2 linked regions of the Homo sapiens genome follow. The main gene of each other region encodes a partner of the protein of the gene in region 2 in a complex. Links are inferred from orthologs where the notes say so. Each region holds a gene or a part of one and is shown on either strand. Other genes may lie near its edges. The genes, in order: VASP and PFN2.

Region 1 (7,292 bases), on a different chromosome or scaffold from region 2:
CGGGAGGAAAAGGGAGAGGGGCCGGTCACCTTCTTATCTGGGTCTCTCCTGGGAGATTCCAAGGGACAAAGACAGTGTGTGGAAGGAAGAGAGTGACACAGAGGGAGGCAGGAGCCACGTGGACAGAAGGAGACGGGGGAGACAGATCAGGAGAGAAAATCAGATCAGGAGAGACAGGCAAACACACAAACGAGATGCAAGAGACAGACGCAGAGAGAGGTGGGAAAGGGAGAGTCGGGTTGACAAAGAGGAGAGACAGACTGAAGGCAGACAGACAGATGAACAGATGGGGGAGGGGTGGGGAAAAAGGATGGGCAGACAGGGGACCTGGAGGAAGAGGCAGACACAGAAAGAGATAAAGATGGTCTTGGCGTGGTGTCTCACACCTGTAATCCCAGCACTTTGGAGGTTGAGGCAGGAGGATCACTTGAGCCCAAGCATTTCAGAGCAGCCTGGGCAACATAGTGAGACCCCATCTCTAATAATAATAATTATTATTATTATTTTTATTTTTGTTTTTGAGACAGAGTCTTGCTCTCTGTCACCCAGGTTGGAATGTGGCCTCGACCTCCTGAGCTCAAGCGATCCTCCCACTTCAGCCTCCCAAGTAGCTGGGACTACAAGCATGCACCACCACACCCGACTAATCTTTTTTTTTTTTTTTTTTTTTTTGAGACAGAGTCTTACTCTGTCACCCGGGCTGTCCTCGGCTCACCGCAACCTCTGCCTCCCAGGTTCAAGCCATTCTCCGCCTCAGCCTCCTGAGTAGCTGGAATCACAGGCATGCACCACCAAGCCCAGCTAATTTTTTGTATTTTTAGTAGAGACGAGGTTTCACCATGTTGGCCAGACTGGTCTCGAACTCCTGGGCTCAAGTGATCCATTTGCCTCAGCCCCACAAAGTGCTGGGATTACAGGGGTGAGCCACCACACCCAGTCCACAAAAAAACTTTTTTAATGAAAAATAAAAAACACAACACAACAAAACTAATAAGAAGGAAAAGATAAAGATGGAGAGACAGGCTGAGGGGTGTAAGAGGCCGAGGCCAATGCCAGTGGGGGGATGCGGGTTAGCAGAGCAGAGGGCAGGAGGGAAGACAGAGGGGCCAGAAGGAGGCCAAGAGCCCAGAGCTGCACTAGGGACCAGCCCCTGCCTGACCTCAGTTTCCCTATCTCTACGCACCCCCCTCCACCACTGCCTGCTCAGGAAGAAGCTGAGGCTTGGGAGGGGAAGTGTGAGGCCTGCAGCAGGTTGGGGACCCATCCCAGACCTCTGAGCTCTTCCTCCAAAGGGACTTCCCGCTGCCCACCCCTCGCCTGGCTCCCCAGGGCACTAGCGGCCATTCCCCAGATACTCCCTGCTCTGTGTCTGGCCTATATTGGGTGGGGCTGGGGATGAAGACACAGCAGTGACCCAGACAGCTCCGGCACCACCCTCCTGGGGCTCACAGTCCAGTGTGGGAGACACAGCTGTCCCCAGACGGTACCAACCCAGGTTTAGGACCAAGGAGCCCAGGGTCTGGGGGTACCCTGAAGGAACGCCTGCCCCAGCCTGGAGAGTCAGGCAGGACTTCCTGGAAAAGGCAACGTCTGACTTAGCCTGGGTGGGAGGTGTCAGTAAACTGGTGCAGAGTTCAGGAGCTGATATCCCCAGACCTGGGTTCAAATCCCCACTGAGCCACCTACTTCATGTGACTCAGGCACATGACCTTCCCACTCAAGACCTCTTCTTGCCTGTGAACTGGGAAAATGACAGTCCCCACCTCCAGGGCAGTGGGGGAGGGGCACATGAATCTGGGCACCTAAAGGGCTTGGTACAGCCGGGTGTGGTGGCTCACGCCTGTAATTACAGCATGTTGGGAAGCTGAGGTGAATGGATCGCTTGAGCTCAGGTGTTCGAGACCAGCCTGGGCAACATGGTGAAATCCCGTCTCTACAAAAACGTACAAAGATTAGCTGGGCGTGGTGGTGTGCACCTGTAGTCTGAGCTACTCAGGAGGCTGACGCAGGAGAATCGCTTGAACCCAGGAGGTGGAGGCCGCAGTGAGCTGAGATCACGCCATTGCACTCCAGCCTGGGCGACAGAGTGAAACTCTGTTTCAAAAAAAAGAAAAAAAGCTAAGTGCTTGGTACAGCGTCCAGCACACGCCGAGAGCTCAGTAACTGTCAACATCCCTCTCATGGGCACCACTGGGGCCCGGGACAGCTACAACCCTCGGGACCCTCCCACCAGCCCCTCTGGGAGGTTCAATCCCCTCTCCCCCAGTGAGGAAACTCAGGCCTAGACAGGAACTCAAACAGGAAGTGACTTGCCCAAGGTCACACAGGGGAAGGGGAAGCACTGGTCTCCTCCCCACCCCACCCACACCAGGCTTTTTCCTGAAATGGGGAAGTTGGTGGTCAGAGGTTTCCGGGGACAGAAATTAGACACCCCCCGCAAAGCCTCTGTCTCTAGGAGGGCTGGGGGCTGGGTGTGACACTGATGCTGGGAAGTCAGGGCAGGGAAAGTCCCTAGGCAGACTCAGCTGTGGGTAGGGACCTGGGGTAGGGACCCTCAAATTTACCTAATTGTGCCATCTCCCTCTTACTAGGCATTTCAGGTGGATCAGGGGCCTTAAGCCCCTCCCCCAAAGTCACTCATTTTATTCTCACTGCAGCTTATCCAGAGAGCCACTCATTCTAATTTTGCAGGTGAGGACTAGAGGCCCAGAGAGGTTGAGTGACTTGCCCACAGTCACACAGCTACTGAGGAATAGAGTGAAGATGTGAATTCAGGCTTCCAAGCCTTAACCACCGGGAACTGTGTGGGCCCCACCCAAACACCAGGTGCCCTTTCCAGACAAACACAGCCTCGGGGGCTGTTTCTGGCTCCTGCTGCCCCTGGCAAGGCAGGGTTAAGGCCTCGGCCTCACCCACACCTGCCACCCACACCCAGGGCCGACTCTGGCCAGGAGCCCGGGGCTGCTGCTGCCCCGCCCTGGCTGCACTTTGCTCTCCCAGGCAGCCCTGCCCTACTGAGGCTCTGGACTGGCCGGAGAACAGGGCGCCTGCTGGGTGACCAAGGGGTGGTCTTGCCCCTCTCCAGGGAACACTATACCCATTGTAACAGAAGGATCCTGTTAAAACACGAGGTGGGGCGGGGAACGGTGGCTCATGCCTGTAATCCCAGCACTTTGAGAGGCCGAGGCGGGAGGATTGCTTTAGTCCAGAAGTTCAAGACCAGCCTGGGCAACACAGTGAGACCCCCCATCTCTAAAAAACAAAACAAACTAACAAAAACCTACAAGGTGGGATGTCTCTTCTTCTTCTTGAAGGCTCCAGGCTCCTACGGAATCAATGCCAAGTTCTCTCCAGGGCCTCCGTGATCTGTGTGTCCTCAGATCTCATTTCTTCCCGCTCCACTGTCCCTTGGGGACTCTGTTCCAGACCCTAGACCTCCTACCCCCATGCTGCTCTTCCCGCAGGCCAGACACATTCCTGCCTCGGGCCTGTGTGCTGCTTCTTCCTCAGGCCTAGCCTCTCCCCACTTTCAGGTCTCTCCTTAGATGTCACCCCTTCCAAGAAGCCGTCCCTCACTCCCTTAGCTGGAAACGCTTCTCTCCTTTTCATCCCCTGCTGCACATTTCATAGCAGTGACCCCTGCCCAACACAATATTTGTCTGTCTCCGCTGCCAAAAAGGCAGAAATTTGTGTCCCAGTTGTTCACTGCTGTGTCCCCAGAACCTAGAATGGCGTCCAACACATAGTAGGGACTCAATAGTTACGAAACATCTGTAAAAAAAGGCAAACTTTGGCCAGGGGAGGTGGCTCACGCCTGTAATCCCAGCACTTTGGGAGGCTGAGGCAGGAGGATCACTTGAGCCCAAGAGTTTGAGATTGGCTTGGGAAGGCTGGGTGTGGTGGCTTATGCCTGTAATCCCAGAACTTTGGGAGGCCAAAGCAGGTGGATCTCTTGAGGTCAAGAGTTCGACACCAGCCTGGCCAACATGGTGAAACCCTATGCCTACTAAAAATACAAAAATTAGCCAGGCATGGTGGCTCATGCCTGTAATCCCAGCTACCCAGGAGGCTGAGGCAGGGGAATCACTGAACCCAGGAGGCAGTTGCAGTGAGCCGATCTCAGACCACTGCACTCCAGTCTGGGAGACAGAGCGAGACTCTGTCTCAAAAAAAAAAAAAAAAAAAAAGGAGAGAGACTAGCTTGGGCAAGATGGTGACCTCCGTCTGTACAAAAAACTTTAAAATTAGCTGGGTGTGGTGGCGCTTGCCTGTAGTCCCAGCTACTCAGGAGGGTGAGGCAGGAGGATCACTTGAGTCCAAGAGGATGAGGCTGCAGTGAGCCTTGTTCAGGTCACTTGCACTCCAGCCTGGGCAACAGAGCAAGACTCCCTCACAGAGCAAGACTCCCTCACAAAAAAAGGCAAACTTTTACCTAGGACACCTAACATTTCTCAGTCAGCCTGGGTCCCAGACACTCTTCTTGGTGCTTGACACCAATTTCCCTGCTGCATGACTCTACAACCTCATGGGATAGGCTCTGACGCTCACCCTTTTGACAAGGGGGAATTGCAGGCACAGAGGAGTGAAGGCACTTGCCCCAGATCACACAGCAAGTAAGCAGAGGGGCTCATAGTTGAAACGAAGTTCCCACAAGTTCTTAACTTCATTTAAAGATGAAGAAGCAGAGCTAAATTGAAATTTTTAAAAGCCAAAGTACAAGGTAGTGTTGATCAGAGGCTTTACAAAACCAAAAAAAAGGTCGGGTGCGGTGGCTCATGCCTGTAATCCCAGCACTTTGGGAGGCCAAGGCAGGCGGATCACAAGGTCAGGAGTTTGAGACCAGTCTGGGCAACATAGCGAAACCCCGTCTCTACTAAAAATACAAAAAATTAGCCAGGCGTGGTGGCGGGCGCCTGTAATCCCAGCTACTTGGGAGGCTGAGGCAGGAGAATCACGTGAACCCAGGAGGCGGAGGTTGCAGTGAGCCAAGATCACGCCACTGCACCCCAGCCTGGGGGACAGAGCAAGACTCCGTCTCAAAAACAAAAACAAACAAACAAAAAAGGTAGGCTAGGCGCAGTGGCTCAAGCCTGTAATCCCAGCACTTTGGGAGGCCGAAGCAGGCGGACCTCTTGATGTCAGGAGTTTGAGACCAGCCTGACCAACATGGTGAAACCCTGTCTCTACTAAAAATAGAAAAATTTGCTGGGCGTGGTGGCGCGTGCCTGTAATTCCAGCTACTCAGGAGGTGAGGCAGGAGAATTGCTTGAACCTGGGAGGTGGAGGTTGCAGTGAGCTGAGATCGCGCCACTGCACTCCAGCCTGGGCGACAGAGCAAGACTCCATCTCAAAAAAAAAAACAGTGAGGAGCATATATAAATATATCTGCACTCAGAGTGGTGATATATGCAGAGACTGTTTCCCAAGACACTAACTGTGGCTGCCTCCATTGAGGGGAACTCAGGAACTGGGGAGGGAAGAAACAAATATTTTGTACCATTTATCTTTTGAGACAGAGTCTCTCACTCTGCACCCAGGCTGGCAGTGGTGTAATCTCAGCTTACTGCAGCCTCCACCTCCCAGGTTCAAGCAATTCTCCTGCCTCAGCCTCCCAGCCTCCACTTCCCGAGTTCAAGCGATTCTCCTGCCTCAGCCTTCTGAGTGTCCGGGATTACAAACGTGTGCCACCACGCCAGGCTAATGTTTCTATTTTCAGTAGAGATGGGGTTTGGGCGTTTGCCACATTGGCCAGGCTGGCCTCAAACTCCTGACCTCAGGTGATCTGCCTGCCTCGACCTCCCAAAGTGCTGGGATTACAGGCATAAGCCACCAGGCCCAGCCACCATTTCAATAATTTCAGTAAGTATTTCAAACTGCTTATTATTTGTTTTCTTATCATGGGTTGAAATTACCTATAAAAACCTAACTCACTACTTAAGTTCAATAAATAAAACTGTAAACTACACAAAAGCCAGAACGAAAATCCCATAGCCATAAAACGGGGGTGCGGGGGCTGTGAGATGGAAAGGAGTTCTGCCCATTTCCAGTGTGTTTTCCCGAAGTCTAGAACCCTCCATTGGACATGAGAACACTTTAATTTTCCAGCCAGCCCAGGACCCACTCCTCCCTGCAAGTCCCCACATTTTGGAAAACTCTAGCACATGGCGGATGAAAAGACGGTTCAAGTTGCCTCCTTGTTGTGTGGCTTTGCCTCTCTGAAACTCAGTTTCCAGCCCTGGAAACAATAACTCACTGGGTTCATTGTAAGGATTAAAAGAGATAATGGACAAAAAGCCCTAAACGCAGGAACTGTAACTTGGTACACGCTCCACATGAAGGAGAGAGCTTCCCATCACCAGAGGTAATCAAGCATGGTGAATCCGGTTTTCACAAAACTTGCAGTCTTACCCTTCCCTTCACTGTCCCCTGAACCCAAGACTTAGCCCATACCCTCCTTATACCATAAAACCTATGATACATATACACCACCCTTCCAAACGACAAATCTTCTTTTGTCGGGGATGGGGCTACTCTAGTCCCTTCCTCCTGGTGGGCCTCAGTTTCCCATAAGTGAATAGGAAGATAAATGTTGCAGCTTCGGTTTCATTTGGCTTATCTGAATTATCTTAAGAGTTTTCACAGTGAAAGCACGTTCCTTTTTTTTTTTCTTTTTCTTCATTAAGAACACGGAAAGCATGTTATCTCTATTTTTTTTTTTTTTTTGAGACAGGGTCTCACTTTGTCACCCAGGCTGGAGTGCAGTGGCAAGAATATGACTCATTGCGGCCTCAACCTCCCCAGCTCAAACGATCCTCTCGCCTCAGCCTCCAGAGTAGCTGGAACTACAGGCGCATGCCACCACACCCAGCTAATTTTTGTATATTTTGTAGAGACGGGGTTACACCATATTGCCCAGGCTGTTCTCAAACTCCTGGGCTCAAGCGATCCTTCTGCCTTGGCCTCCCAAAGTGTTAGGATTACAGGCATGAGCCCCGGCGCCTGGCCCTGTTTGAGTTTAATAGGCACCTTGCCTAACTTTCCTGTGCCTCAGTTTCCCCATCTATAAACTGAGTACCGGGGTGGGGAGGCCACAAGGTTGTAATAGTATCATTGTTCGAACTGCCATGAGGGGCCAGGTGTGGTGGCTGACGTCTGTAATAATAACACTTTAGGAGGTCGAGGCGGGTGGATCACCTGAGGTTAAGAGTTCGAGACCAGCCTGGCCATCACGGTGAAACCCTATCTCTACTAAAAATATAAAAATTAGCCGGGCATGGTGGCAGGCACCTGTA
Region 2 (3,784 bases):
ATGCAAAAGCATCCCAATTATCTTATATGCTGCCTAAGGAATGTCTTCTGCTCTTATGTGGGAGGGCCCCAGCTGGCTGACTTCAGCCTGCCAACACAGCTTCCAAATCTAAAGTCATATGACATTTCAATACAGAAAAATCCACAATAGTGCAGAAACCCTTCTTGGTACTCCCTTTACTATTAGATTTCACATCTAGAAACCAGCAAGAAGAGGAAAATACTTATTTTCTAGCAGATAAGTCAGTTGCTTCTCACATACTCCTGAAGATGAGCCTGAAATGACTAAAAGCTATGTGTAACAGATCAGAGTCCATTAAAAAGAAATTCCCAGGCACTAATTTTATCTGTAATATTACTTGAAGTAGGCCATCACCTAATATTGCTGAAGTTTTATGCTTGCAGCAGACTTTGGCCTATTCTGTGTATTCCCACTTTGTCAAAAATCAACTTTTAACAGTTTATATAAACAATGTATATAAACAACAGGAGCCTAGAGTATTTGGTTGGAATAAATTTATTTCATCTGTCTGTAAACAAGGTGTTTAATAGTTATGGCATTTTTTTAAATGCATATTAAATCAGATGAGTTAGACTGTATCCCAGATGTAACAAAGTGCAGGGAAAGAAATGGACAAATCAGCAACAAGATTTGTTTTTAAATCTGTACATTATCCACAAGGCCCAAACAATAGAAGCAAATACTAGAATGTCCCTAAAGTAGTGCCATTCGAAAGAAACCCTTAATAGGTCAGTTAAAATCCATCTCACAATAGCAACAGTTCATTTTAACAATAGTATGGCACAGAATACATATGAAAAAAATTCATCACAAGACAGCCAAGTCCACAATAATGCAACTTCATATAAAAACTCAAGCTGCAAATAAAAATTGGTCCTATGAAGAACAAACTGGACACACTCCAGATGGTTATGTTGGGATACCTAATGTCCATAATGGCAGCCTTTTACAATTTTACTAAAGAGTAGAGCTGGTGTGCAAAGAAAAAGGAAGAAAAATCTGAGCTATTGCAATGATGGAATGTCCCTGGGGATTCAATCAGTATGGTTACTGTAAGGTCATGGGAGGAAGTGCTTTTTGCTCTTGTTTTGCCATTGCACTCTTCATATGTCCTGTAGACACTATGAATAAAGGTTTGTCTCTGCTCAAGTGCAACAACAATACTAAAAGCAAACTACTGCAGCTCTCAATAGCTCATCAACAAAAGGGATTTTAATTGGTTAAAAAAAAACAGGCACTGCATAAAAAAAGATGGAAGCAAACCAAATGCCTATGTGCGAAGGGAGGGGGGGCGGGAAAAAGAGAAGAGTGAAGGAATGATGCATGCACTTTTTCCTCCCAACCATGCGCTACAAAAGGAAGACTAAATGAGCCAAGTAAATGCTCAAAGTGCTGAAAAGACACTGATCAGAGATTGTACAACCGGCACCTTGCTTAATATTAACTTATTTTAGTAATCAATATCCCATTAATTGCTAAGACAAAGTGATGCCCAACTTGGCATGCCCCCTCCCCCCAATTTCAAGGTATCATGCAAATCATTATTGTGCTGCAATTATGTTGCCAGATAAGGGTTGGTTACATACAGTGGTTAACATACAAATGATCCATTGGGCAAACAGGAATCATGACATTAGAAAATAGGTAAAGAAAAATTAGCTACCATCTACAGTTTGGTAGCATTGTGACCATAATTAGGGTTGTTGATGAAGACAGTTGCTAGGTAGATGGGGAGAGGCTGCTTACACATCAGACCTCCTCAGGTATAAAGCGAGTTCATATGCTTTCTTGTTAAGTGTGCCTCCGTGGACACCTTCCTTTCCCATGACTATAACCAATGCTGGAGTACACAAGGAAACAAAACAAAAGTGAACAGAATTATTTTGGGGGGGGAGGGCAGAAAGAAAGACACCTTTCCCCACCAACAGAGGGATACAAAGGAGACACAGGTTCATACCCCATCACCCTGCATTGCTAATAAAATTTCCAGAATTAAGACTTAAGCTTATAGCTAGGAAAGTTTAAGAGCAATTTTCCCCTAATACTTAACAGTCTGCCTAGCAGCTAGAACCCAGAGTCTCTCAAGTATTTTGCCATTGAGTATGCCTTCTTATTCAATCCGCCTCCATGGACCCCTTCTTTTCCCATTACAAAGACCAAGACTGAAAGAGAAAGAAGAAAAGTGTTTCAAAAGAAGTGTTAATCAAGAAAGTCACATAAGTTTTAGCAGACAGAACCCGGATTAATAAGTTAACATTAAGTTAGTTTTCCATGAACTGCCAAGCACTGAAGTCAAGTAGGTTTCCAAAAAGAACTTTCAAACTAGTAATATACTAAACAGAAAATAGTAAACTTGACTGCATCTTGGAAGCCAATCAATGCAAGCAAAAGTTCTATACAACTATCTTTACACTAGCTACAGAAAAAAAAAAAAGTGACCATTTGTCTTCTATTTTAGGGCAAAAAAATTCTGGCTGATGTCAAGTACATGTTATTACTTGCCCCCAAAATATAAACTTAATAAACCTGGGGAGTTACTTACTTACAAACTCTCCCCAAATTTTAACATGCTTGATAAGTTTAAACTATTAAGTTTTACCAGTGAGGCTAAATGTATCTATTATTTCCAGAGGAAAATGAAGATCAAATTTTAAGTAGCATACTCAGTATCATTCAGAAAAGGCCAAATTAAATTATTTAAGGTGTTTGCTTACTGATAACTTCACCGTAGTAGCCTTGTTTTTAATTGCGTCTAAAAAAATAGGTTTACGATTTCTAATTGCTCTTCTATGATGCAATTCAAAGGTGTATAACCCAAAATATATGTATATGTCAAATTTTATATTCACTACCACTAGATGTCAGTAGTGCTGTATCGTATAAAATATTCTGGTTTTTTGTCTTGTGTTTGACGCTTCTTTTCAGCGTATAGTGCAGCTAAGGTTTAAAGAGATTTGTCACTATTTCAAAGTCATCTAATTTTCTTATAAATCCTTATAAACATCAACTCACACCAGAATACGAGTAACTTTTAGGATAATCACAGGGAGCTGGTAGAGCCATAGCATTAATTATAACTCACAGCAGCTTCAACTCCCCTCACATGGTAGAGCTGTTATTAAAATTAGATGTGCCAAGTCAGCTATGTGAGGCTACAGAAGCACTCTCTATTTACAAAATATTCGTATGCGTTAACACATTAAAATGTATTTGTAAATCAATTAGATGTCATAATAAAACTCAATTTCAAAAGTTTATTTTGAAAAAGTAGGGAGACTTCTTTAGTGCAATTAAGAGTTTCTATAATGCTGACAACAGTCTGGAGACACCTGAATTTCTGGACCAAGTATACAAACTAAATGTAATTTCCTACTTTTCAAATCTAAGTCTCAGACACAATCTTTGAAAATATTTCAGTGAATGGACAACTTACTCCAAAATCCTCATCTAATTATCTTTTCCCCAGCAAAGTTCCTAACTGAAAAATGAACGGATGTTAATTTTTCCTTCTTTATGCTGAGTAGTGAAATGGTTAGAATACAAGCAAGAAAAAAAAGAAAAGAGATCCAAAGGTCAAACACACACCAAAAGGGACTAAAATAACCAAGTGATTCGAACAATTTAACAATCTGAAACACCACAGGATTATGATTTGACATGTCAAGCAGTTTAAGAGACTTTTAAGTTTAATAAAGCTGAAAGTGAGTTCATACGAATATTCTATCGTAGAAACAAAATCAGGATCTAAGAGGCCAGGTCATAG

What was found.
Region 1: the proteins of PFN2 (region 2) and VASP are in contact, whole or in part, in a crystal structure (PDB 2V8C), measured with the Mus musculus proteins. The link is inferred for Homo sapiens from one-to-one orthologs. Residues at the interface, in NP_062283.1 of Mus musculus: Gly3, Trp4, Ser6, Tyr7, Asn10, Cys13, Tyr30, Trp32, Met131, Tyr134, Ser138, Phe140; in NP_033525.2 of Mus musculus: Gly165, Pro166, Pro167, Pro168, Pro169, Pro170, Gly171, Pro172, Pro173, Pro174, Pro175, Pro176.

The regions. Positions count from the first base shown.
Region 1 is NC_000019.10:45,510,364-45,517,655, reverse strand, and holds part of VASP (vasodilator-stimulated phosphoprotein), read right to left. Parts: intron 1-7,292. UniProt on the Homo sapiens protein: Ena/VASP proteins are actin-associated proteins involved in a range of processes dependent on cytoskeleton remodeling and cell polarity such as axon guidance, lamellipodial and filopodial dynamics, platelet activation and cell migration.
Region 2 is NC_000003.12:149,964,404-149,968,187, forward strand, and holds the end of PFN2 (profilin-2), read right to left. Parts: intron 2,184-3,784; coding exon 2,086-2,183; 3' UTR 1,862-2,085; coding exon of another isoform or gene 1,764-1,861; 3' UTR 501-1,763; downstream 1-500. UniProt on the Homo sapiens protein: Binds to actin and affects the structure of the cytoskeleton. At high concentrations, profilin prevents the polymerization of actin, whereas it enhances it at low concentrations. By binding to PIP2, it inhibits the formation of IP3 and DG.